7 linked regions of the Homo sapiens genome follow. The protein of the gene in region 4 purifies or fractionates together with the protein of the main gene of each other region. This does not show direct contact. Each region holds a gene or a part of one and is shown on either strand. Other genes may lie near its edges. The genes, in order: RBM25, NKAP, PNISR, CDK11B, GPATCH2, SPDEF and GPATCH8.

Region 1 (3,500 bases), on a different chromosome or scaffold from region 4:
ATTATTGTGGCATTAAAACTTGTGTGAGATTTGACTTAAAATTAGACTACAGACCACTATGGAGATTAATATTCCAGGTTTTGGTGCCTCTTTCGTTGAAGAATGATATTCTGAAAATTAAAACATTTATAGAATGGTTCCTTAGCCGCAAGAAGTTCCTGTATGAATTTGAGGATTCATACCTTAAAATTTCTTGACTGTATTGTTAATTTTTTATTTATTTTTAATGTGACAATTATTTTTCTCTTTTAGGTTATGGCTCATAGTTCACCCCAGAGCATTTTAGATGATGTTGCCATGGTAAGTTAGAAATTCACTATTTTTATTTCTTTTAATTTAAAAAAAGTTTTTGGTTTTTTTTGTCTTAAAATATAGATGGGGTCTCACCACGTTGCCCAGGGTAGTCTTAAATTCCTAGGCTTAAGTGATCCTCCTGCCTCAGCCTCCCAAAGTGTTGAGATTACAGGCATCAGCCACCACACCTGGCCAGAAATGCACTATTATTAATATTTTAATTAACATCTATATAAACTCACTTTTGAATTTGATTCACTTCCTGCCTGTCTTTGTTCCAGAATCTTTTTTAGGCCTGAATTAAAACTTGAGTAATCCCAGTACTTGGGAGGCTGAGGCGGGTGGATCACAAGGTCAAGAGATCGAGACCATCCTGGCCAGCATGGTGAAACCCCGTCTCTATGAAAAATACAAAAATTAGCTGTGCGTGGTGGCGTGTGCCTATAGTCCCAGCTACTCGGGGAGTCTGAGGCAGGAGAATCACTTGAACCTGTGAGGTGGAGGTTGCAGTGAGCCGAGATCATGCCATTGCACTCCAGCCTGGTGACAGAGTGAGACCCCATCTCTAAATAAATAAATAAGGCTTCATTCTTTTCCACCAGTTCCATTCATGTTTTCCCTATGCCCAGCACAATGTGCTAGAAGCATAAAAGTAGAACAAATGACCTGTAGTAGCAGAGAGATAGGTATACAGGTACTGGAACCTTGATGTACTTGTTTGAATTAGATATGTAGAAAGGATAATGGAGGTAGAGGAGATAGAACATCTGATGGCATTGATAGCAGTTAGGTTAAGCATCACAAGGATTACTACAGGAACTGATACGTGTGTGTGTGTGTGTGTGTGTGTGTGTGTGTGTGTTTTAAGTCGGATACATGTGCAGGTTTGTTACATAGGTAAACTTGTGTCATGGGGGTTTGTTGAACAGATTATTTCATCACCCAGGTGTTAAGCCTAGTACTCATTAGTTATTTTTCCTGATCCTCTCCCTCCTCCCACCCTCTGCCCTACGATAGGCCCCATTGTGTGTTGTTCCCCTCTCTTCGTTCATGTTTTTTCATCATTTAGCTCCCGCTTATAAGTGAAAACATACTGTATTTGGTTTTCTGTTCCTGTGTTAGTTTGCTAAGGATAGTGGCCTCCAGCTCCATCCATGTCCCTGTAAAGGACACTATTTCGTTTTTTATGGCCACAAGATTGTACATATGTGCTGCTTTTTGGACAGGTATCCAAACACCTGTTGTATTGACAGTAAACATCAAATCCCCGTTGCATTTAATTTGGGATTACAGTCAGTGGTAGCATGTAGTTAACACTGTGATTTTGTGAGACAAGGAAAGGAGAAGAAAATTGATGGTAAAGGTTGAGCAAGAGATTGAACTATGATCTCCAAGTTAGGAAGAGAAGAAAATAGTATCTGAATAGAGCTGGTGGTTTGAATGAATTAAGGACTAGTGGTTCCAGTGAAGTTGTGGAAGGCGAATTGTAATAAAACAACTGAAAGGAGAGGTTATGGTCAGAGTGTAGAAAGTTCAAGTCTATATGTGATAGGTCAGCCCAGACGATGGCAAGGTGCATAGTATGACTATGGGAAATTCCTGGGTATTGGGAGTCAGATTGGAGAGAAATACTGGAAATAGTTGCCAGAGCACTCATTTAAGTGGGGGGAAAGACTAGATACTTGCCAGATAGCTGCTCTTACAGTGGATAAGGTGGTGAGAGCTCATGAACGTCCATGGAGTTGTTTTTTTTTTTACCAAGAAAGAAACAGTGAAGACCCACAAGTCATTCCTGTGGAGATTAAGACATTGAGAGTGAGAGACTGCCTGAGAAGTGCCGGGGCTCTAGGAGATAGAGGAGGGTTTCTGTTAAGAGGAAAAACCTAATTTAGTTGTTGATGTGTAGTATAAAATGGAATAGCGGTCCAAAGGGCAGAGCGGGAAGACAGCAATGGGAAGATGAGTAAGGAAGGAAAAATCATCAAGCATGATATGAAATGGTAGATGACTGGGAGTACTTGCACTTGGAACTGCCACCAGAGATGTCAGGGAGGGACATCGTGGGGTTTATAGTCAAAAAGAAGGATTGTGAGGTCTAGCTGCTTTGTGTCCAGGCATTTTATGGTGTCTAAAGCCAGATAACATTCCTTTTCTGCTGCCTAGCTAGCTTGATGCAGCTGTCATTTAGAACACCTGATAAAACATTTGTGAAAACTTCATTGCCTCAGAGGAAAGGAGAAATGTGAATAGATTTCAGTCCTTGGGGCTGAATTCTGAACTTTCCTGAAGCTTCCAGCCCCGTTTTTCTTGGAGTAGAGGGTGTCGTAGTTAGGCCTGAGTGAAGACATTTTTTAAATAAAACTGTGTTCTAGCGTTTGGCCTCAGCAGAGTTCCTATCATACATAGTAAAGATTTCATGTCAGTGTTAATTTTAGATTTTTTGATCTGTTGTAATATATTGATATTTGAAGTGTATTTAGACCACTGTTTATGATTTTGTGGCTCGTTGATTAGAATGAGAGGAAACCAGTTGAGCTAGTGTTGTCAAACAGCTCTGCTAAAAAGCTCATGGGGCCTTGTAAATATTTCTTGAATAAATGAGGAGACTGAATTTTTAGCCTGAGTACTGTTTCACTCTTAACAAAAGTCTGACTTCTTTATATTATACCTTTTTCATTTTATGTAAATTAAATGAAGTTTGGTTGCATTTTGTGCCTACATCTCTCTGAAGTGTGACTCAGATGTGAATTAGTGTTACAACAGAGTTCTTCAACTAAAGTCAAATCTGGCTCATAGAAATCTGATCAAAAGTTCTTTAATTAATTATTGCTATCATTGAGAAAGTGACAGAAATTTCTTTCTTTTAATTTCTTTCTTCTTTTCTTTTTTTTTTTTTTTTTTTTTTTTTTTTTTTTTTGAGACAGAGTCTTGCTCTGTTTCCCAGGCTATATGGAGTGACAGTGGCGCGATCTTGGCTCACTGTAACCTCCACTTCTTGGGTTCAAGCAATTCTCCTGCTTCAGCCTCCCAAGTAGTTGGGATTACAGGTGCCCACCCGCACGCCTGGCTAATTTTTGTATTTTTAGTATTGACGGGTTTCACCATGTTGGCCCGGCTGGTCTCAAACTCCTGACCTCAGGTGATCTGCCTACCTAGGCCTCCCAAAGTGCTGGGATTACAGGCGTGAGCCACTGTGCCCAGTCTCT
Region 2 (3,290 bases), on a different chromosome or scaffold from region 4:
GAGAAACTAAAATGATATTAAATATTTTTAACTGTCTTTCATATACTAAGTAGATTTCATTTTAAACACTTAAACCTTTCTGTTTGTTTTTAAGTTGGGGAGAAATGGAAAATTGTGGGACTATGATATCGTGGTCTTGTTCCTTTGTTTATTTCGTTCAATTTTAATTAGGTCAGAAGAGTGAATGGGGGAGGGAACCCAGGAAGTTTTGGCTGTTTTCATTAAGGTTGGTTTTCTGTTTTTTGTTTTTTGAGATAGAGTCTCACTCTGTCACTCAGGCTGGAGCCCAGTGGTGTGATCTCGGCTCACTGTAACCTCTGCCTCCTGGGTTCAAGTGATCCTCCCACCTCAGCCTCCCAAGTAGCTGGGATTACAGGCACTCACCACCACAACTGGCTAATTTTTGTATTTTCAATAGAGATGGGGTTTCGCCATCTTGGCCAGGCTGGTCTCGAACTCCTGACCTCAAGTGATCTGCCCGCCTCAGCCTCCTGAAATGCTGGGATTACAGGTGTGAGCAACCGTGCCTGGCCGTTTTTGTTAAGGTTATTTGATCTGCATTATTATTACATGCCTATGATAAATTTAAATTACCTGAGTGATAAGGACATTCTGATTATACTATTGTAAAATGCCCGCTTGCCTTATATTTTTAAGTGGTTGTTTTTCAAAAGTGTTTAAATAAGGCAGTCATATTTCAAAGTATAGAGCAAAAGTTTTTTTATTATTATTTTTGAGACAGGGTCTCCCTCTGTCACCCAGGCTAGAGTTCAGTGGTGCAATCTCGGCTCACTGCAACCTCCACCTCCTGGGCTCAAGCAATCCTCCACCTCAGCCTCCCGAGCAGCTGGGACTACCAGTGTGCACCACCATGCCCAGCTAATTTTTGTATAGTTAGTAGAGACAAGGTTTCACCTTATTGCCCAGGCTGGTCTCAAACTCCAGACCTCAAACAATCCGCCCGCCTCGGCCTCCCAAAGTGCTAGGATTATAGGCGTGAGCCACCACACCCGGCCCAAAGTTTTATAATTAAACAGTATTAACAGTCTTAAATACTATTAAATATATGTTCCAGGAAATGTCTACTTTTAACCCGCAACTACTGAAAATAAGAGTCAGCATGTAGCAGCATTAATGACCCCTGAATTTGAAATGATTTCTGTTTATTTATACCTAATTGTAGTTGCTGCCTAGCCTAATAAATCTGTAGTTTTCAAAAGTTAAAAGAAACTAGTTCCCAAAGTTTTGAGTCTCAATCCATCTACTTCCCTGAATAATAAAACCTGAATTTTGTAATACCCACTTAAAAATTTTATTCTCAGCTGGGCGTGGTGGCTCACACCTATAATCCCAGCACTTTGGGAGGCCGAGGTGGGCGGACCATGAGGTCAGGAGATCAAGACCATCCTGGCTAACATGGTGAAACCCCATCTCTACTAAAAATACAAAAAATGTAGCCGGGCATGGTGGCACGTGCCTGTAGTCCCAGCTACTCGGGAGGCTGAGGCAGGAGAATTGCTTGAACCTGGGAGGTGGAGGTTGCAGTGAGCCGAGATCAAGCCACTGCACTCCGGCCTGGGAGACAGAATGAGACTCCGTCTCTAAATAAACAAACAAATAAAAATGTATTCTCTAAGGACATTTTTTTTTTGGTTACTGGTTCCTAGAGATGAAATGATTATCTTATTTTCAGTAGGCAAGGTAGTTTAAATGCAGAAATTCTGCGATATATGAATATTGTGACATCAAGAACAGCTTCATTGGCATATTCTTTGGGAAAGAGGCAAGAAGAATAAAAGGGCTAAAAGTATTTTATTTTCAGCTTATGAGTGTTGTTACTGCTTCAAATTGTGTTTAGTCACCTGAGCCATAAATCAGTTGTAGTAGGGCTATTGTATTTTAAATATATTTTTTGTTCTCCAAGGAGACTTATCTAGTTTGCCACCTCCTTGCCTATTGCTCTGATGTGGTTTTCCCTCCTTTTTTATTTATTGCACAAATATCTAACAGTTAAAAAAGAAAAATTTCAGTACCATATCAATTGTCTTTCATATTTTGTGTTCCTCCTTTCCAGTGCTTTTCTATGTAAGTAAATATTCTGATGTACTTGTAAGTAATCACTCAGAGCATAATGTAATTTTGTCTTTGGTGTCTTAAAATTTTGCAGCCAGGCAAGAGAGGTTCACAGGGAAGGTAGGAACAAGTGATTATTCAGTGTGAGGATGGGAAGAAGATCAAAGATAAGTAAGGGCAATGATTGTATCCTTCCCGTGTCATTGCCCCTAGTCCCCAAGCCACCCTCCTGCAATCATGAGTATAGTGGTGTATTGTGGAAGGCAGCATGCCCAGTTTTCCAGTTTCAAAATATATTATTTAGCAGTGAGGCTTAACTCCCAGTAAATGAAGGGGTCTGTGAGTAGGGGAACCCTTCAGACTGGTTATATTATGAGCTGTAGAACTGTTGCCATTTTGTTGTTCCCAGTTGTGCCCATAAAGAGATGTGTCTGAGCTGGAGACTTAGGCTCAGATGGGGAACAAACAGCCAAGTACCAACCTTAGTTTGGTCCAATAGGTGAATTTTAGCAACTCTCTAAACTCAGCTCTATACCTGTAAGACTCAGAAGTGATACATATAGTGATAGAAAAAAATACTTTAGAAAATAGAAAACAACTTACTGGTTACTCTGCTAATGTGATGGAGGTTGCAGAATGGAAAATGAATGAATGCAAAAAAATACAGCTGGATTGTGTGCCACAAGTTTATTACTCAATAAATATTCTGTGGTTTGACGTGCTGTATTGTATTTTTAATGTATCCTGATGAGAAAAACAATCCTAAGACATCCTGTAAGTATCAGACACGATTGAATAAGAAGGGGAATGACTCCATGAAACTATATTTGGCATCAGTAAGATTCTTCTGCCAGTTTTCTCGAAAGCGAACCATTCCTGGTCTACAAAGGAAGAAAAACAAACACTTTTAAAGTATTTTTAAATCAAAAGCTTTTAAAATCAAACAAAGGGGATTCCCTATTTACTCTTTTATATTCCTAGTAAGCAAGAAGCCTCTTTTATTGGCGGGGGAGGGGAGGTAGCTAAGGTTCTCTATGTCTATCCTTTACTGTTTCTTAAGCCCAGTCAATGAAAGGATTTATGAGCTTATATGTAAAGATACTTTAAGAGAGCTGCTATAAAAGGGATTATTATACATGAGTTAATTTTATGTGATATTGAAGTTTTCCTTAGAAACGATAGACATGACCCACTTTGCCTCCACCCCACTCCAGCAA
Region 3 (3,500 bases), on a different chromosome or scaffold from region 4:
AAAAAAAAAAAAAAAAAACCTTAAAACTTAGTCAGGCATAGAGGCGCATGCCTGTAGTCCCAGCTACTTGGGAGGCTGAGGTGGGAGGATTGCTTGAGCCTAGGGGATTGAGACTGCAATGAGCTGTGATCACGCCACTGCACTCCAGCCTGGGTGACAGAATGAGTCCCTCATTTAAAACAAACAAACAAAAAAAACGAGAATTCAGATTACTTTTAAAAACATAAATATTCTAGTCTTTGATACTGTGAGGTGGTTCATTTCTAGCTTTCTTGAAAGTGAAATTTCCCCACATTTGAAAATGTTTTAGTTCCTAAGTTTAAGTTCTTAAATGACTCCCGCGGGCATCCCTACCCCTTAGTTTTACTCTACTTTGTGACCCTGGGCAAGTGATTTACCTCTGTGTGCCTCGATTTTCCCTCCCGAAATTGGCAAAAATAATACCTAATTTCTCCCTACCTCACAGGGATGTTGTGAGGATAAATGTGTTCGTGTAAGAAAGAAATTATATAAAACCTCAAGGTATTATTTTTGTGGTGTTGTTACTAAACAAATATAAAAATTCAACAAAAATAGTGCTTTGGATTTTGTTACATTTGTTAAAAATAACTTTGGGCATTTGGTTAGGATATGAATTAGAGTGGAGTTAGCTCATTTTGAATTATATATGACAGTTTAGTTCATTGCTTATTTTTAAGATAAACAAAAGGAATTTGACCAAGAAGTCATAAGTTGTTTTTTAAATCTGTATGTTTACTGAAAAATCTTTCTTGAGATCTTAAAATTCTGTGTTGATTTTGTTATAACCGCCTGTTGAATGTTTTTATGCCTAAATCTTAAATAGAATGGGGAATGCATCAGCAACCCCCACACCCCCCTCCAGATCAGCCATGGATGCCACCAACACCAGGCCCAATGGACATTGTTCCTCCTTCTGAAGACAGCAACAGTCAGGACAGTGGGGAATTTGCCCCTGACAACAGGCATATATTTAACCAGAACAATCACAACTTTGGTGGACCACCCGATAATTTTGCAGTGGGGCCAGTGAACCAGTTTGACTATCAGGTGAAAGATATTTTGTTGCTTTAATATTGTAGATGTGCACGTAATCCATTCTTTGGAAGTGTCTCATCAAGAATACCTAAGATACGTGTTTCACTTTTCAGACTTGTATAAATAAGCACATTCTGTCTCAGTTATCAATTTTTGAGTATTAAAATAATTAGAATTTGTTTTCTGATTTTTTTATTTCATTAGGAAAATGGTATAAAAGATCATTACGGAAAACTTTTGAAAAAATTAAAAATGTATAAGTGCAATAGCTATATGATGTTTTATTTTCTAATTTATATTTCAAAATGGTATATTTAAATGTTAAAGACTAGAGAATGCACAGTAATTGAATATAGCTCATGGTTAAGACATGAATAAAAAATATAGATCATTTTCCTAAGTGTAATTCCTTGTGCTATGTAGAATTATGACTGTTTTTCTAGTGTCATTTTTTTTCCATTCTGACATGACATGTTAATGGAATTGTATATAATTTCCTCTGTAGCATCCAATTCATTCCTAGGGACATAGAACTCTGTGGGGAATAGTGTTGTATGTTGGGCTTTATTTACTTCATTCCCTCTGCCAGGGTCTACCCTTAAATTATAGTGCTAGGTGTCATTTTGAAATAACTGATTGCAATTATTAACTTATAAACTGCTATCATAATTTAAAATTTTGAAAGAATTATTTCATGAATTCTAGGGTAGATTTGATAATGGACATCTAGTATTCACCTTGAGATGGTAATCCTCTCATTAATAAATATTCAGATACTTGTATACTTGGTATACAGATACAACAGTTTTTATGTTGTTTGAAGAAATATAATGGCAGGGAGCATCTGCTTACCCTACTTTTGCATGGTAGATCCCATGTAAACAAGACAAAGAGCTGTATTGGCAGCTGGCCTAGAAAAGCCTCTGAAAATAGCAAAATTGCAGAAAATATTTAATGATTCATTAACTTCTATCTTTGCTTATAAATGAATATATCTGCAAGATTATAGAAACAGCTTAAGTTGTTTAGTTCACTTTTTGTTCACTGTAAGTAGGATGTTGAAATTGACAAAAATGTCTAGTTAAAGAGAAATTAGTATCTATTTGATGTCTTAGTGTTGGTAGGATTAGCTTGTAAATGGATTCAGAATGAAAAATTTCATATACTTCTTGAAAGTAGCTTATCAGCTGGCTTTTAGAAGCCTCTTTGCATTTACATAGCCGGAAAATCTTAAGACAAGTAAGCCTAGGTTCTTGGGACCATAGAAGTATCGGTGGATATTAGAGCCATGGAATTCTTGGATGTGCTGCACACATGGATTTCTACTGTCCCAGTTCATAACACACGTGTGTCCCAGAGAGTATATTGTATTAATTTGAAGAAAAAATAAACTGCAATACTCTTTCAGCATGGGGCTGCTTTTGGTCCACCGCAAGGTGGATTTCATCCTCCTTATTGGCAACCAGGACCTCCAGGACCTCCAGCACCTCCCCAGAATCGAAGAGAAAGGCCATCATCATTCAGGGATCGTCAGCGTTCACCTATTGCACTTCCTGTGAAGCAGGAGCCTCCACAAATTGGTAGCTATTTAACTTAGTTTAGTGGACCACAATTGGCATGACTTTTTTATCATATAAAAAGGATGTCTTGTTTTCTTAAAATTGTTTGAGTATCTCTGATGTGTTAGGAATTGACACTTTATTTTTTATGGTCATAAAGCTTAAAATTACAAAAATGATACTGGTCTGAAATTAAAAGGTTTAAATAATTTTATTTAAACCTTTACATTAAATTCCAGATTTTGTGATGAAGTGAAAATTTATGCTAGCCATAGCATGTTGGTATTTTCTTCAGTGTAGGCATTTCAGTACATTATACAGATATATGAGCCCTTCTCCTTTTAAATCTAATTGTTCAATCTCTGTCCACTCTTAGTTCATCTGATGCACTGCTGTCAGATTAATTTTCCTCTGGTTATTTCACTTCCCTTAAGTATTTTGGCAGAAAATTTCAATTTTTTAAATAACATTATAGAGCCAGCCTATTTCAAGTGACAAATACATATTTATGCCACTTTATATCTGGAAAGTTCTAAATTGTTCAGTATTTAATGGACAGGAGCATTTGTTAATAAATCTTTACTTTTTACATTTTAGGAAGATTCTAACTTTACTCCTTTTTTAACTTACTAGCAAATCACTTAATTTTTTCGAGTCTCAGTTTCCTCACCTGTGGAAAAAAGTGGAGTAATAGTAGTGATCTCTGAGGGCTTTTGTAAGGATTAAATTAGATGATGGTTTAACATGCTTTCATTGTGTCCTGGCAGATTGTAAGCACTAGAGCAGTGGTCCCTGCTGTTACTAAAAGTGATGGCATTGAAGAAAGGCATGATATTTAATGGGATATTTTTTAAATTTACTCACAAGTTTGTAGAAATATTTTAC
Region 4 (3,500 bases):
AACAGGTGGGTGGGGTCCCCTCACCCCACAAAGGCAGGGGAAGTGGGGCAGGGGCTGGCTGCCCGAGAGCTGCGACTGCACCTGGGCCCGCCTCACCTGAGCAGCTACTGGAGGTTGGACCCCTCAGCACCTCTAGAAGCCAGAGGTCAGCCTGGCCCTGGGGCTTTGCCACTCCCTTGCAGTAGCAGGCGGCCTGCCCCACAGGGCCGAGGCCCAGCGCGTGGAGTGGTCTGTGCCGGGGCTGGTGTGCAGGTTTGCGTTCCCAGCGTCCCACCCAAGCAGGTGTGTGAGCCGGGAACTCTGTTGGGAGTCGGCCACTGGGATCCCAGGTGAGGCCGGCTCTGTTGGGGAAGTCGATGTGGAGTCGGCGTGGCCGCTGGGATCCCAGGTGGCTGTAGGTGGCTGTGAGTGTCTGTGGTGTGTTGAGTGGGAAGCCGTGGGTGTTGCCCAGACCTCAGCTGGGGCGTTCTCCTGGTGCCCACGTGCCCCCACCTAGAACGAGACCCCCCTCCGTGAAATGCTGGCGCTTTGGGCACTGCCTGCGGTCCTCACTGAACGAGTCCACTGTTGGTACCGTGACTTTGAGAATGCCTCTCAGTGCCGTCTGTATTTTCTTCACAGATGAAATTGTGGCTCTAAAGCGGCTGAAGATGGAGAAGGAGAAGGAGGGCTTCCCGATCACGTCGCTGAGGGAGATCAACACCATCCTCAAGGCCCAGCATCCCAACATCGTCACCGTTAGAGTGAGCATGGCCCCACCACGCCTGGCCCCGGGTGGAAGGCTTTTCTGACAGGGCCCCGTGCTGTCCTGGGGCCGGGTGCTTCCTACACTCTCCTGCACTTAGTGGAGCCCTTCACAGACCACACAGAAGCAAGCATTTGCCTCCCGGGTGGCACCGGAGGTCCTTACTGTCCCTCAGCAGCTGCACCCGGGTGCAGGGGTGGGTGGGGGCCTGGAGGTGCCCAGCACCCACAGAGCCGTGCCCTGCAGGAGATTGTGGTGGGCAGCAACATGGACAAGATCTACATCGTGATGAACTATGTGGAGCACGACCTCAAGAGCCTGATGGAGACCATGAAACAGCCCTTCCTGCCAGGTACAGCCGCGCCCCAGGGGCCTGTCTGCGTACAAGTGGGGGCAGGGTCCTGGTCACCCCCGCGGTGACAGTGCTGCAGGGAGGGCCAGCTGCATCCACAGGGAAAGCCCTGAGAAGCCTCTGTTGCTGCCGAGGCGAGTGGGCCACCCTGAGTGCCCTGGGCTGGGGGCAGCCAGGTCCACATGGGAGCTTCCCTCCCTCCCAGGGGAGGTGAAGACCCTGATGATCCAGCTGCTGCGTGGGGTGAAACACCTGCACGACAACTGGATCCTGCACCGTGACCTCAAGACGTCCAACCTGCTGCTGAGCCACGCCGGCATCCTCAAGGTGAGCCCCCCTCCGAGTGGCCCATCCCAGGGAGACCTGCCGGGGCCCACTCACAGCCGCCCATCTGTCGTTGCAGGTGGGTGACTTCGGGCTGGCGCGGGAGTACGGATCCCCTCTGAAGGCCTACACCCCGGTCGTGGTGACCCTGTGGTACCGCGCCCCAGAGCTGCTGCTTGGTGCCAAGGTGAGTCCTGGGCGTCTGAGTGCCTCCCCTGTCCCCCACGCAGCCTCCCACAGCTTCGCGGGCACTGGCCCTCCTGAACACCTCTCCTGACCTCTTAGGAATACTCCACGGCCGTGGACATGTGGTCAGTGGGTTGCATCTTCGGGGAGCTGCTGACTCAGAAGCCTCTGTTCCCCGGGAAGTCAGAAATCGATCAGATCAACAAGGTGTTCAAGGTGGGTCTGGCCCTGCTGCAGGTGCGCTGTGGGGTTGTGGAGGAGTTGCAGGAATGGGGCTGCGGGGCGCACAGGTGCTGGGTTGAGATGGGGACCAGGGCCACTGAGAGCCCTCCTGGTGGCTTGTCTTCTCTGACGGGACACAGGTGCCAACACTGTGGGCCACTTGGTGTGGCTGTTGAAGCACCTCTGTCTTTCAGGATCTGGGGACCCCTAGTGAGAAAATCTGGCCCGGCTACAGCGAGCTCCCAGCAGTCAAGAAGATGACCTTCAGCGAGCACCCCTACAACAACCTCCGCAAGCGCTTCGGGGCTCTGCTCTCAGACCAGGGCTTCGACCTCATGAACAAGTGAGCCCAGTGCAGCCGGGTGGCGGGAGGTCCCGAGCCATAGCGGTGACTTCCCAGTCCCAGGCCTACCTGCTGGCTCACCACGTTCCAGAACTGCTCTGGTGCCTGGCGTCCCATGCCCTGAGCCCCGTCCCAACACAGCCCATCTTTGGGGGACCCAGTGGAGCACACGAGCACCTCCTGGGCCTCTGGCCCTCTCCCCCCAGGTTCCTGACCTACTTCCCCGGGAGGAGGATCAGCGCTGAGGACGGCCTCAAGCATGAGTATTTCCGCGAGACCCCCCTCCCCATCGACCCCTCCATGTTCCCCACGTGGCCCGCCAAGAGCGAGCAGCAGCGTGTGAAGCGGGGCACCAGCCCGAGGCCCCCTGAGGGAGGCCTGGGCTACAGCCAGCTGGTGAGGGGCCTGGCGGGTGGGGCGTGCCCACAGGTGGGGCTGGCTTGGGCAGGGTTCTCACGGTAGCCGACTCGTCCCAGGGTGACGACGACCTGAAGGAGACGGGCTTCCACCTTACCACCACGAACCAGGGGGCCTCTGCCGCGGGCCCCGGCTTCAGCCTCAAGTTCTGAAGGTCAGAGTGGACCCCGTCATGGGGAGAACTCAGCCGGGACCACAGGCGTGGCTACTGCGGCTGGAGCTGCGATGAGACTCGGAACTCCTCGTCTTACTTTGTGCTCCATGTTTTGTTTTTGTATTTTGGTTTGTAAATTTGTAGAATTAAATCATTTTCCTTGTTGTGGAGGAAAGAGCTGTGTTTTCTCCGTGACTTGCCCAGGGCGGAGAGGGTGGACATCTTCGGGTGCCCACGTGGGGCAGCACAAACCTCCACACACCCTCTCCCACTCTCGACACGCACGGGGCTGGCTGGGCCGTGATTTGGAAAGGAACTGGTGGGAGCCGGGTGGATTGTTTAATCTTCGGAGCTGGAGACCTGTTTCTGTGTTGGGATGAGCGATGCCCTCTTGCCCCAACCCACTCGTCCAGACCAGCCCTGTCCACACAGGCCCCCGGCCCCCAACCCCCAGCCCCAGCTGTGCCAGCAGACTCGACAGGTTTTTATACAAGGTTGTTGAGTTTTAAAATGTATTAAAATATTCTTCGAGGAAAGCTCCCCGTGTCGTCCTTTGAGTGACCCGGGACCATGTGTGGGAGGGGAGTCGCAGACCACCGGGCTCTAGGGGAAGAGGGTGGGGTGGGCGGCTGTGGCCTCTGACCCCATGTGGGCCAGTGTCTTCCCCAGGCAGGAGGGGAGCTCCTACCTCCTGGGGGGCCTCCACTCTGGCAAGGTGGTCCCCCACCCTGTGCCAGTCCTCCCAGCCCCCACCCAC
Region 5 (2,799 bases), about 220 Mb from region 4:
CTGCAAATGTATATAATATATTTTTTAAGTTTTATAATATATATCTCTTTAATATTATTTTCCTCTATTTTCTTTCTACTAACTTATATAATCATTTAAACATGGCCATGGAAGGAAAAGGAGGAAAGGAACTAAAGGAGGCATATGTTACAGACTGAATAATAAATAACAAGGAGAGAGATTATAAGAATGTAAATTCCTAGGAATTCAAGATGCCACCAGTTGTGCTTTTTGTTTGGTTTGGTTTTAGTTTTGGTTCTGTTGAATGTCAAGGTCATGGGCAAATGTGAGATATTACAATATAGGTTGGTGATTTTCTGAATAATCCATAAGGCTAACATGGTAATGAAAATAAATCCATTAGTAGAGTACTTTATGGTTTACTGAGAAGTTTCTTTACATACATGATCTCATCTGTCCTACAAAGTTCTGTGAGATAGGCAATGTAGGTTGTATTATGGCTGTTTCACAGATGAGGAAACAAAAGCCCAGAGAGGCTGAATAGCTCACCCTGCTGTGAAGTGCTAGAATTGAAATTCTAAACAAGATCTTTCTTCCATTGTTCTCTCAACTACAAAAAGTATCCAAAGATGAATACGCAACCCCCTCTAGTACCTGGTTGAAAAACAAAACAAAACAAAACTTAGGAGAACATCGTTTTCATAGCCTAATATCTTCACCTGTGTTCATACTGATTAATGTGTGCTGTTGTTTTATCATTTCAGGATTTGTAGGTGAAAATGCCCAGCCAATCCTAGAAAATAATATTGGAAACCGAATGCTTCAGAATATGGGCTGGACGCCTGGGTCAGGCCTTGGACGAGATGGCAAGGGGATCTCTGAGCCAATTCAAGCCATGCAGAGGCCAAAGGGATTAGGACTTGGATTTCCTCTACCAAAAAGTACTTCCGCAACTACTACCCCCAATGCAGGAAAATCCGCCTAAGAAAAGCAAAGAAGAAATGTTTTACAGACTTTATTCACTATGTCCCATTGTTCTAAAATGATAACATGACTTCTGTTTTTGAAGCAAAAATCTACATTGCCTCAAACACATCACTCTAGCTTCCTTACTGCATACAGTCCTGCCATAGTGAGAGAAATGGGATTTCATCACAATTCATGGTGCTAAAATGAAAACCTCTGCACTTTAATTTTTTTCAGTAATTTCCAGCTATTTCTAGGTATAAAGAGCAGCTCGTTTCTCTTATTTATTTTAGTCTCATGTGTCAATACTTTCCGATGCTTTGCTTAATTCATGTATGTGTGCAGTGCTGCAATGCCCAGACAAACGTGAGCACACCCACCAGTTTCTAAAATGGAATAGACAGGAAAAGATTGTGTTTTATATCATCCCTATCTATTGTAACCCAAAAGACCTACCATCGCATCAGTGAAGTCCGAACACATCTTTGTTTGAAAGGCTTGTCAATTTCATATTCCTTGAATTGGCTTCTTGGTGAGGATTTTCTGACAGAGTGATACCCATCAATTTTCTATCCTTAGACAATGTAGTGTGAAGTTCACAGTTGACAAACAACAATTAATGTTTCCCTTGGATGTTTTGACAAAAATAAACCTCATCGTTGTTATCACCAGAGTGCCCTCTACCTTACTTTAATGCAGATTTTATAAATTTTACCTCATTTAGAACATAAAATAATTATTGAAAGAAAAATGTATTTTTTAAATTCACCGTGATTGAACTGTAAATTCTATTAATCCAGATGTACTTCTACCTCTGTTTTCCCAAAGATTGATATTATTTTTAAGATCAACTCAAGTGTAGTAAACGGATTTAAAATTTTAATCATTGGAGTAATTTATTACAATATTGAATCAATTTACATGAAAAGTTAAATGGCTCTCCCAGAACTCAGATTTCTGGCAATGACCCAACCCATTTAGAAGGTGAACAAAAGAAGTAAATGGTACTGATTTGCCCTTTCTAGGACCCAAGATGTTACTTTAAAACCTAGCAAAAGAGGTCGTTTGTATTACGTGCCTAGTATTGAGCTGTTTCTGAGTCATTTGCTTCATAGTATCAGAAATTCTAAATTGCTTTTAGTTTAGAAGATCTTTATTTATTATCTTCATTATTAACAACTTATTATGATGATGATTATTATCATTCTATTTATAATGGCCTTTGCTGGTTGAGTAAAGACTGAGATAACACATGTGAATCACCTTTCTAATGGGTTTTTAAAATCTTGTCACTTTCCAAAAGAGTTTTTTTGTTTCTTTTTTTTTTTTTTTTTTTTTGACAGAGTCTGCCTCTGTCGCCCAGGCTGGAGTGCAGTGGCGCACTCTCGGCTCACTGCAGCCTCCCCCTCCTGGGTTCAAGTGATTGTTCTGCCTCAGCCTCCCAAATAGCAGGGATTACAGGCACCCACGACCATACCCGGATAATTTTTGTATTTTTAGTATAGACGGAGTTTCACCATGTTGGCCAGGCTGGTCTCGAACTCCTGACCTCAAGTGATCCGCCCACCTTGGCCTCCCAAAGAGCTGGGATTACAGGCATGAACCACAGCGCCCAGCCCCCAGAAGAGTTTTTAAAAGGTGTTAAAGGAGGTTTATGCACGTAACAGACCTTTCTCAGGTGGTCCCCTAAAAAAAATCCTGCCAACTAGGGAGGGGAAGTCCAACCTGCTATTTGAAAGCCTTCACGGTTTGCCAAATGTACATTTCTTGAGAATTATCTTCTTTCCCAGGGATATTGTACCTAGAGGACAGGTTGGTTAGGGAACTATGGACGACCAGAAGAGATGTTCTTTTGAAGCATTCTTACTGGAT
Region 6 (3,500 bases), on a different chromosome or scaffold from region 4:
GGGGCTGAGCAGCAGGGCCAGAGTGGCCATCTCTGTCACTCCCTCAGTGCTCTTCTCAATGGGGACTAAAGCTGGGGTCTTGGGCTCTGGGCGGGCTGGCATTGGGTCTCAGGATTGAGGTAGGGGTGAGGATACATTTACCCCACACCACCATCTCCCCAGGAGGTAGGGCCTGAGAGCCGGGACCAAGCAGGATATGGAAGACAGGCTCCAACCCGCACAGCGACCTGGGTCCTTAGCAAACGCCTCCCAGGTGACTCCATTCCCGGAAACTGTGGTTCGGGAGCTGTCAGGGAGGGCATCTTTTGCTGATGCCAGTTGGGGTGTGGGAGTGAAAACCTGGGAGGCAAAGGGTTCAAGGGGCACATTTCTAGCCCCGAGGGGTGAGAGTAGGCAGGGTAGTGGCAGGAAAAGCTGCACTAAATCTCTCCTTTTGGGTCCCTCTGCTCACTTTCCTTAATCTTCCTTCCTGGGGGAATGGAAGGCGCTGAGAGAAGGGGCCCAAGGTGGCTAATCCCCCTGGCCGCCACCCCACCATTCTGCTCCTGTCTCTGGGCCTTGGCCTCCACCAGCTGTTACCAAACTTTCTTTGTCTGGAGTGGGATCTGGGGCCTCTGGAGCAGGAGGGAGCCAGGACACGCTGAGCCTTAATCCAGACATGTGGCTTAATCCAGAAGAGATCAACTCGAGGTTTGGGAGCTGGAGGCATCGCTCAGGAGACGGCAGCCCGTGGGACTGGCAGGCCAAGGCTGCAGGAACGCTGGGTCCTGCCATCTGAGGACCCTGGACATGGCAGACACCTGGCACGTCCCAGGACCCTTGGCCTACGGAGCAGTGGCCTGAGTGTCAGGAGGCCTCTGGTCTGGCCCTGGCTGTGCTGTGTGACTGTGGGCACCTCCCTGCCACTCTTTGAGCCTGAGCTTTTCCAGTGCACATGTGTCCCCATGGGTGGACCATCACTGATGGATTTAATCCTGGGCTGAATTGCATGGCACAGATGAGGCGAGCCTAGGAAGTCGCAGGAGGGAGCTATTAGGGAGGGCTCGCTGGGGCAGGAGGGCTTTGGGATGAATTGTGATGAGAAGGAAAGGGCATCTTAGAAAATAGCCATGTTGTGCCCACAGCACAGGGGCAGGTATGAAATGCCATTCTCATTAGAGCTTGGATTTGTGGTCACTATGTCAATCCCTGGTTCTGGTCCGGACCCTGCTGCTAATAAGCACATGAATCCCTTCCCCACTCTGGGCTTCATTGTTCCCATTCTATGAAACAATCACATAATATATGGCCCCTTCCAGCTCTGATTATCTGGGCCAGGTAGGAGGTAGACTCAGAGGTAGGCACCAGCCACTGGGATGGGGCAATGGGGAGCCATGGGAGATTCTTGAGCACAGGGGTGTCTGATGAAAGGGTGCTGCAGGGATATGAACAGTGGGGTGGAATGAAGAGCCAAGAGGTGGGGACAGACTTTAGAGCATCAAGGAGCCCAGTCAGGAGGTGGGCAGATCCCCTAGGAAGATGGGACTGGCCAGAGCATGCACCTCAGAGAGAATGTGGTCCAGTGAGCAGAACCCACACCTGGCCAGGAAGAACCCTGGACAAGCTGCACAGCCTCCCTGAGCCTCACTGTCCGCATCTATAAAGCAGGGCTCTGGAGTCCACGTCACCCTGGCTGTGGGTAGGAAAGCGGGTGATGTGGGTGAAAGCCTGGGCGTGGCACTGGTGCTCACTGCCAGGGGCTCACAGTGCCGTTCTCTCTTCTTCCCTCCTGAGGCCAGCCCAGAACCTTGAGACGCCTAGTTGCAGGTTGGGCACACCAGCCCTGGCTGCCTGACCAGTAAGCCAAGCCCCCCTACTCTAGGCCTGGGCTGCCTTGGGGACGGAGCATTCCCCACCACCCCTGATCTGCAGAGAGTCGAACCTTTCCTCCAACCACACAGTTAACCATTAACTTATTTTTCATCAGGGAAGTGTTGGAGCTAGGACCGAGGCTTGGTGGGGAGTAGATTCCTTGGCATTTAGGTATAGGGCAAGGTCAAGCTGGAATGTGGGGTATAGAGGGTGAAGGAGCCCGAGCCAGGAGTCAAAAGACCTGGATTTGGGGATTTACCTCTCTGCACCTTGACTTCCCCATTAGCAAAGTAGGGATGAGAATAAGACCTGGGCCAGATGAGGTAGCTTGTGCCTATAATCCCAGCAGTTTGGGAGGCTGAAGCAGGGGGATCACTTGAGCCCAGGAGTTCGAGACCAGCCTGGGCAACATAGTGAGACCATGTCTCTACAACAGATTTTAAAAATTAGCCAGGCATGATGGCACACACCTGTAGTCCCAGCTACTTGGGAGGTTGAAACAGGAGGATCACTTGAGCCCAGGAGGTCGAGGCTGCAGTGAGCCATGATCATGCCCCTGCACTCGACAGAGCGAGACCTTATCTCAAAAAAAGAGAGAGTAAGGCCTGTGCTGCCTTTCTCCTGGCAAGGGGATGGATGTGAGGGCTTCACATGCACTCAGCAAATGTGTCAAGGATGTGTCATTATATGCCTTCCTGGCAAAAGCTGCCACCTGCCCTGCCCATTCATCCCCACCGACCCCACACAACCATGCCTGAAACACAGCAGCTGCCTCCTGTCCTACCTGTGGCTGAGGCCAAGCAAACAGGAGGGCCACAAGGGAAGCGAGTTCTGCTTCTTGGAAAAGCTTCTGTCTCCCTGGCATGGCGCCCAGGGTGTTGGCAGAGACTGTCCTAACGTGGCAGGCATGGGGGCTCTGGGGATGTGGACGGGGCAGGAGGCAGGCAGGGGGTGATGAAGGAGGGGTGGGGGGCTGCGGGGGGGGGTCCCCAGGGGTGGAGCCACCTAGCGGGTAGGGCATGGGCACCAGGCAGGGTGGGGCCCAGGGGCAGAGCGAGCTGTTGGCACTGCCTGAGTAAATAATGTGGGCCCACAGCACACACGAGTGTTTGCACAGAAGGACTTGAAATGATTCCAGGTCTGCCCTCTGTCCCCCACATCCCCAGCCCCGCCTTGGTCTCTGCCCACCCCACCCCACCCTGACCTTTCCTTCCTTGTCACTTAAAGGAGCCCTTGAATGGGAGAGTTGAAATCAAAGGGAACACCCTTCCCTCCTGCTGGCATTTTCTCCACCACAGGAAGCTGCAGGGCTGCCATGTAACACTGGGAAGGTTGGGCACTGCACAAGGAGGGTGGGCAGAGGAAGCTGAAATTCTACCTAGGCTCCATTCGTCAAGCTATGCTATCCAGGGGGAAGGGATGTCATTTTCTGAGTTGTGTGAAATTGAATGGGCTAGCTGTGGCCCTACCGAAGTGGAGGTGTCTTCCAGACTGGGTTCTTTCCCTTGTCCCACCTGCAGAAGCAAATGCCAGCTGCATACGGAGGCTGCGCGGGTCAGTCTCACAGGGTAACTGGAGATGGATCAGGGAGCCCCCTTCCCCTCCTGCTGTCCCAGTAGGGCACCATAAATGTCACTGTTAGAGAGGAT
Region 7 (3,500 bases), on a different chromosome or scaffold from region 4:
TAATGGTGTATTACATTGTAGTGGTGTATTACATTGATTGATTTTTGTATGTTGAACCAACATTGAGTTCCTGGGATAAATCCCACTTCGCCTTTTAATATGCTGTTGAATTTGGTTTGATAGCATTTTGTTGAGCATTTTTGCATCTGTACACAGAAAAGATATTAGTCTGTAGTTTTCTTGTAATGTCTTTGTATCAGGGTAATACTCAGAATAAATTAGGAAGTGTTCCTTCCTCTTCTATTTTCCCTTGCATTTTAAAATGGTTTTTTAATGTGTTTTGTATCCTAAATATGTATTGCTTAGTTTTATGTAGTGGGTGGGTGGGTGGGTCGGTGAGTTGGTTGGTTGGTTGGTTGGTTTTGAGACAGTCTTGCTTTGTTGAGACAGTCTTGCTCTGTCGCCCAGGCTGGAGTGCAGTGGCACGATGGCTCACAGCAACCTGTGCCTCCCGGGTTCAAGCAATTCTCATGCCTTAGCCACCCAAGTAGCTGGGATTACAGGCGTGCGCCACCACGTCCAGCTAATTTTGTTTTTTTTTTTTAGACGGAGTCTTACTCTGTCACTCAAGTTGGGGTGCAGTGGCACGATCTCAGCTCACTGCAGCCTTCACCTCCTGAGTTCAAGCAATTCTTGTGCCTCAGCCTCCCGAGCAACTGGGATTACAGACACGTGCCACCATGCTCAGCTGGTTTTTGTTTGTTTGTTTGTTTGTTGTTTTGTGTGTGTGTGTGTGTGTGTGTGTGTGTGTGTGTGTTTAGTAGAGACGGGGTTTCACCATGTTGGCCAGGCTGGTCTCGAACTCCTGACCTCAGGTGATCCACCTGCCTTGGCCTCCCAAAGTGCTGGGATTACAGGCGTGAGCCACCACGTGGCCTAGTTTTACATGTTTTTTAACTTTATATAAGTGGAATCAGTTTTCTTGTATATATATATACACACAAGATTTTCTCCAGAGTGTGACATTTATTTATTTTCTTGTTTCCATTGCTGTAAGGGGTTAAACCTGTGTTCAAGGAATACACATAGGCTTAACTTCTTAAAGCAATATACTTTAGCCTCTGTATAATGTTGTCATTATCCTTTTTTACCTTAAAATTCTGCAGCTTCAGATTCATGGAAGGGTCTTTTAAACATTTTTGTTAATTCTTAGCTGTATTATACTGTGTTGATATATGTTGTGCATATTACTTCTTCATTTCTGACTTTATTACAGTTTCTTCTATAGCCTATAATGGGCTTTTTGTCTGTGTAAATATTCTTTTTTTTTGAGATGGAGTCTCTGTCGCCCAGGCTGGAGTGCAGTGGCGCCATCTCGGCTCACTGCAAGCTCCGCCTCCCGGGTTCATGCCATTCTCCTGCCTCAGCCTCCCGAGTAGCTGGGACTACAGGTGCCTGCCACCACGCCCGGCTAATTTTTTGTATTTTTAGTAGAGACAGGGTTTCACCATGTTAGCCAGGATGGTCTCGATCTCCTGACCTCGTGAACCGCCCACCTCGGCCTCCCACAGTGCTGGGATTACAGGCATGAGCCAGCGTGCCTGGCCTTGTCTGTGTAAATATTCTATGAGTACTGTTTATTTGAGATAGGGTCTCACTCTGTCACCCAGACAGGATCTCACTCTGTCACCTAGAAGTGCGGTGGCAGTGATCACAGCTTACTGCAGCCTCGACCTCCTGGACTCAAGCGATCCTCCCACCTCAGCTTCCCGAGCATCTGGGGCTACAGGTGCATGCCACCACACCCAGCTAATTTTTATATTTTTTGTAAAGACAGGGTTTCACCATGTTGCCCAGGCTGGTTTTGAACTCCTAGGCTCAAGCTGTCCACCCACCTCAACCTCCCAAAGTGCTGGGATTACAGGTGTGAGCCACTATGCCTGGCCTCTACAAGTACTTTTTTTTTTTTTAATTGAGATGGAGTCTCACTCTGTTGCCCAGGCCAGAGTGCAATGGTGCGATCTCAGCTTATTGCAACCTCCACCACCCAGATTCAAGTGATTCTCGTGCCTCAGCCTCCCAAGTAGCTGGGATTACAGGCGCCCACCACCACACCTGGCTGATTTTTGTATTTTTAGTAGAGACAGGGTTTCATCACGTTGGTCAGGCTGGTCTCAAACTCCTGACCTCAGGTGATCCACCCACCTCGGCCTCCCAAAGTGCTGGGATTACAGGAATGAGCCACCGCACCCAGCCTACGAGTACTTTTTGAAGGACTTCCCCAGCCTTCCAAGTAACTGGGACTACAGGTGCACACCACCACGCCTAGCTAATTTTTTGTATTTTTGGTAAAGATGGGGTTTTGCTATGTTGCCCAGGCTGGTTTCAAACTCTTGAGCTCAGGTAATCCGCCTGCCTCGGCCTCCCAAAGTGCTGGAATTACAGACATGGGCTACCACGCCTGGCCTATTTTATTTTTTAAGTTATTATGTGGTCTCAAAGTGGGAAATAAATGGATGGATGGATGGATACATGGATGGATGGATGGATATAGGATGGATTATATTTGTGTTGTTCTAGTTACCTTTATAACTTAATGAAATTACCCATGTTTGAGTGTCCATTATTTTCGTACTATAAGCAATAAAAAGCTAGCTTGTTTTCTCTTCTTTCCTCTTCCATTTTAAAAACTCTATCATATAATGTTAATAAGTAAAATGGCCATTCTTAGTATGTGGCTTCATACCATTTAATTATTATATTATGTACACTACTTCTATTACTTAATAATTTTCATGTTTTGTAAAGTTCTTTTTACTTCTATTGAGTTTGCAGAAGTAAGCAAACTCAAATTCATATCTGCTTCTGCCTGCCCACCCAGTTTTTTATTATTTGTATCATTTCTATTTTCTGACAGCATATAACATACATAGTTATATGTATATGTTACAGTTATATGTATATACTTTAATAGCCCTATTTCTTTTAACCTTAGTTATAGGAGTAAATGGTTTTAAAGCAGTCTGCCAGTTCTTTTGCTGAGTTTTCTTCTATTATTTCTGAATTTTGTACCCTATTAACTTACTTAAAAGTGGTTGTGCAAACAGTGTTTCTTGAATTATTTATATATATATGTATTTTATATAAACATAAGCCTATAAAAATAATTCACATCCAGCCTTGGGCACCATGATGAAACCCTGTCTCTACGAAAAATACAAAAATTAGCCAGGCATAGTGGCATGCCCCTGTGGTCCTAGCAACTCAGAAGGCCGAGGTGGGAGGATTAATTGAGCCCAGGAGGTCGATGCTACAGTGAACTGTAATTGCACTACTGCACTCCAGTCTGGCCAATAGAGCAAGACGCTGTCTCAAAAAAAAAAAATAGTAATATTAATTTAGGCAATTACATATATATCAACTTATGTATATGTGTGTATATATGTACACATACATATAACTCCATATATACGTGTATGTATTCCCTATATTTGAAAGATACATATAAAATCCTAAGTTAATTCTTTCCTTAGATATCTTATAGTATTTATTGTACCACT

Evidence for each region.
Region 1: the proteins of CDK11B (region 4) and RBM25 fractionate together in Homo sapiens (co-fractionation; one large-scale study listed by BioGRID). This does not show direct contact.
Region 2: the proteins of CDK11B (region 4) and NKAP purify together in Homo sapiens (affinity purification with mass spectrometry; 2 studies listed by BioGRID, with this or other methods). This does not show direct contact.
Region 3: the proteins of CDK11B (region 4) and PNISR fractionate together in Homo sapiens (co-fractionation; one large-scale study listed by BioGRID). This does not show direct contact.
Region 5: the proteins of CDK11B (region 4) and GPATCH2 purify together in Homo sapiens (affinity purification with mass spectrometry, with the first as the bait; one large-scale study listed by BioGRID). This does not show direct contact.
Region 6: the proteins of CDK11B (region 4) and SPDEF purify together in Homo sapiens (affinity purification with western blotting, with the first as the bait; one study listed by BioGRID). This does not show direct contact.
Region 7: the proteins of CDK11B (region 4) and GPATCH8 purify together in Homo sapiens (affinity purification with mass spectrometry, with the first as the bait; one large-scale study listed by BioGRID). This does not show direct contact.

The regions. Positions count from the first base shown.
Region 1 is NC_000014.9:73,114,034-73,117,533, forward strand, and holds part of RBM25 (RNA-binding protein 25), read left to right. Parts: intron 1-252; coding exon 253-300; intron 301-3,500. UniProt on the Homo sapiens protein: RNA-binding protein that acts as a regulator of alternative pre-mRNA splicing. Involved in apoptotic cell death through the regulation of the apoptotic factor BCL2L1 isoform expression.
Region 2 is NC_000023.11:119,920,172-119,923,461, reverse strand, and holds the end of NKAP (NF-kappa-B-activating protein), read left to right. Parts: 3' UTR 1-2,790; downstream 2,791-3,290. Other genes in the region: AKAP14 (A-kinase anchor protein 14), read right to left, coding at 2,855-2,954. UniProt on the Homo sapiens protein: Acts as a transcriptional repressor. Plays a role as a transcriptional corepressor of the Notch-mediated signaling required for T-cell development. Also involved in the TNF and IL-1 induced NF-kappa-B activation.
Region 3 is NC_000006.12:99,408,309-99,411,808, reverse strand, and holds part of PNISR (arginine/serine-rich protein PNISR), read left to right. Parts: exon of another isoform or gene 1-844; coding exon 845-1,068; coding exon of another isoform or gene 1,069-1,092; exon of another isoform or gene 1,093-2,463; intron 2,464-2,464; coding exon 2,465-2,636; intron 2,637-3,500.
Region 4 is NC_000001.11:1,635,005-1,638,504, reverse strand, and holds the end of CDK11B (cyclin-dependent kinase 11B), read left to right. Parts: coding exon 1-5; intron 6-621; coding exon 622-743; intron 744-991; coding exon 992-1,097; intron 1,098-1,302; coding exon 1,303-1,424; intron 1,425-1,500; coding exon 1,501-1,608; intron 1,609-1,651; coding exon of another isoform or gene 1,652-1,706; coding exon 1,707-1,823; intron 1,824-2,023; coding exon 2,024-2,172; intron 2,173-2,378; coding exon 2,379-2,568; intron 2,569-2,648; coding exon 2,649-2,741; 3' UTR 2,742-3,280; downstream 3,281-3,500. UniProt on the Homo sapiens protein: Plays multiple roles in cell cycle progression, cytokinesis and apoptosis. Involved in pre-mRNA splicing in a kinase activity-dependent manner. Isoform 7 may act as a negative regulator of normal cell cycle progression.
Region 5 is NC_000001.11:217,429,292-217,432,090, reverse strand, and holds part of GPATCH2 (G patch domain-containing protein 2), read left to right. Parts: intron 1-725; coding exon 726-946; 3' UTR 947-2,799. UniProt on the Homo sapiens protein: Enhances the ATPase activity of DHX15 in vitro.
Region 6 is NC_000006.12:34,546,330-34,549,829, reverse strand, and holds part of SPDEF (SAM pointed domain-containing Ets transcription factor), read left to right. Parts: intron 1-3,500. UniProt on the Homo sapiens protein: May function as an androgen-independent transactivator of the prostate-specific antigen (PSA) promoter. Binds to 5'-GGAT-3' DNA sequences. May play a role in the regulation of the prostate gland and/or prostate cancer development.
Region 7 is NC_000017.11:44,426,907-44,430,406, reverse strand, and holds part of GPATCH8 (G patch domain-containing protein 8), read left to right. Parts: intron 1-3,500.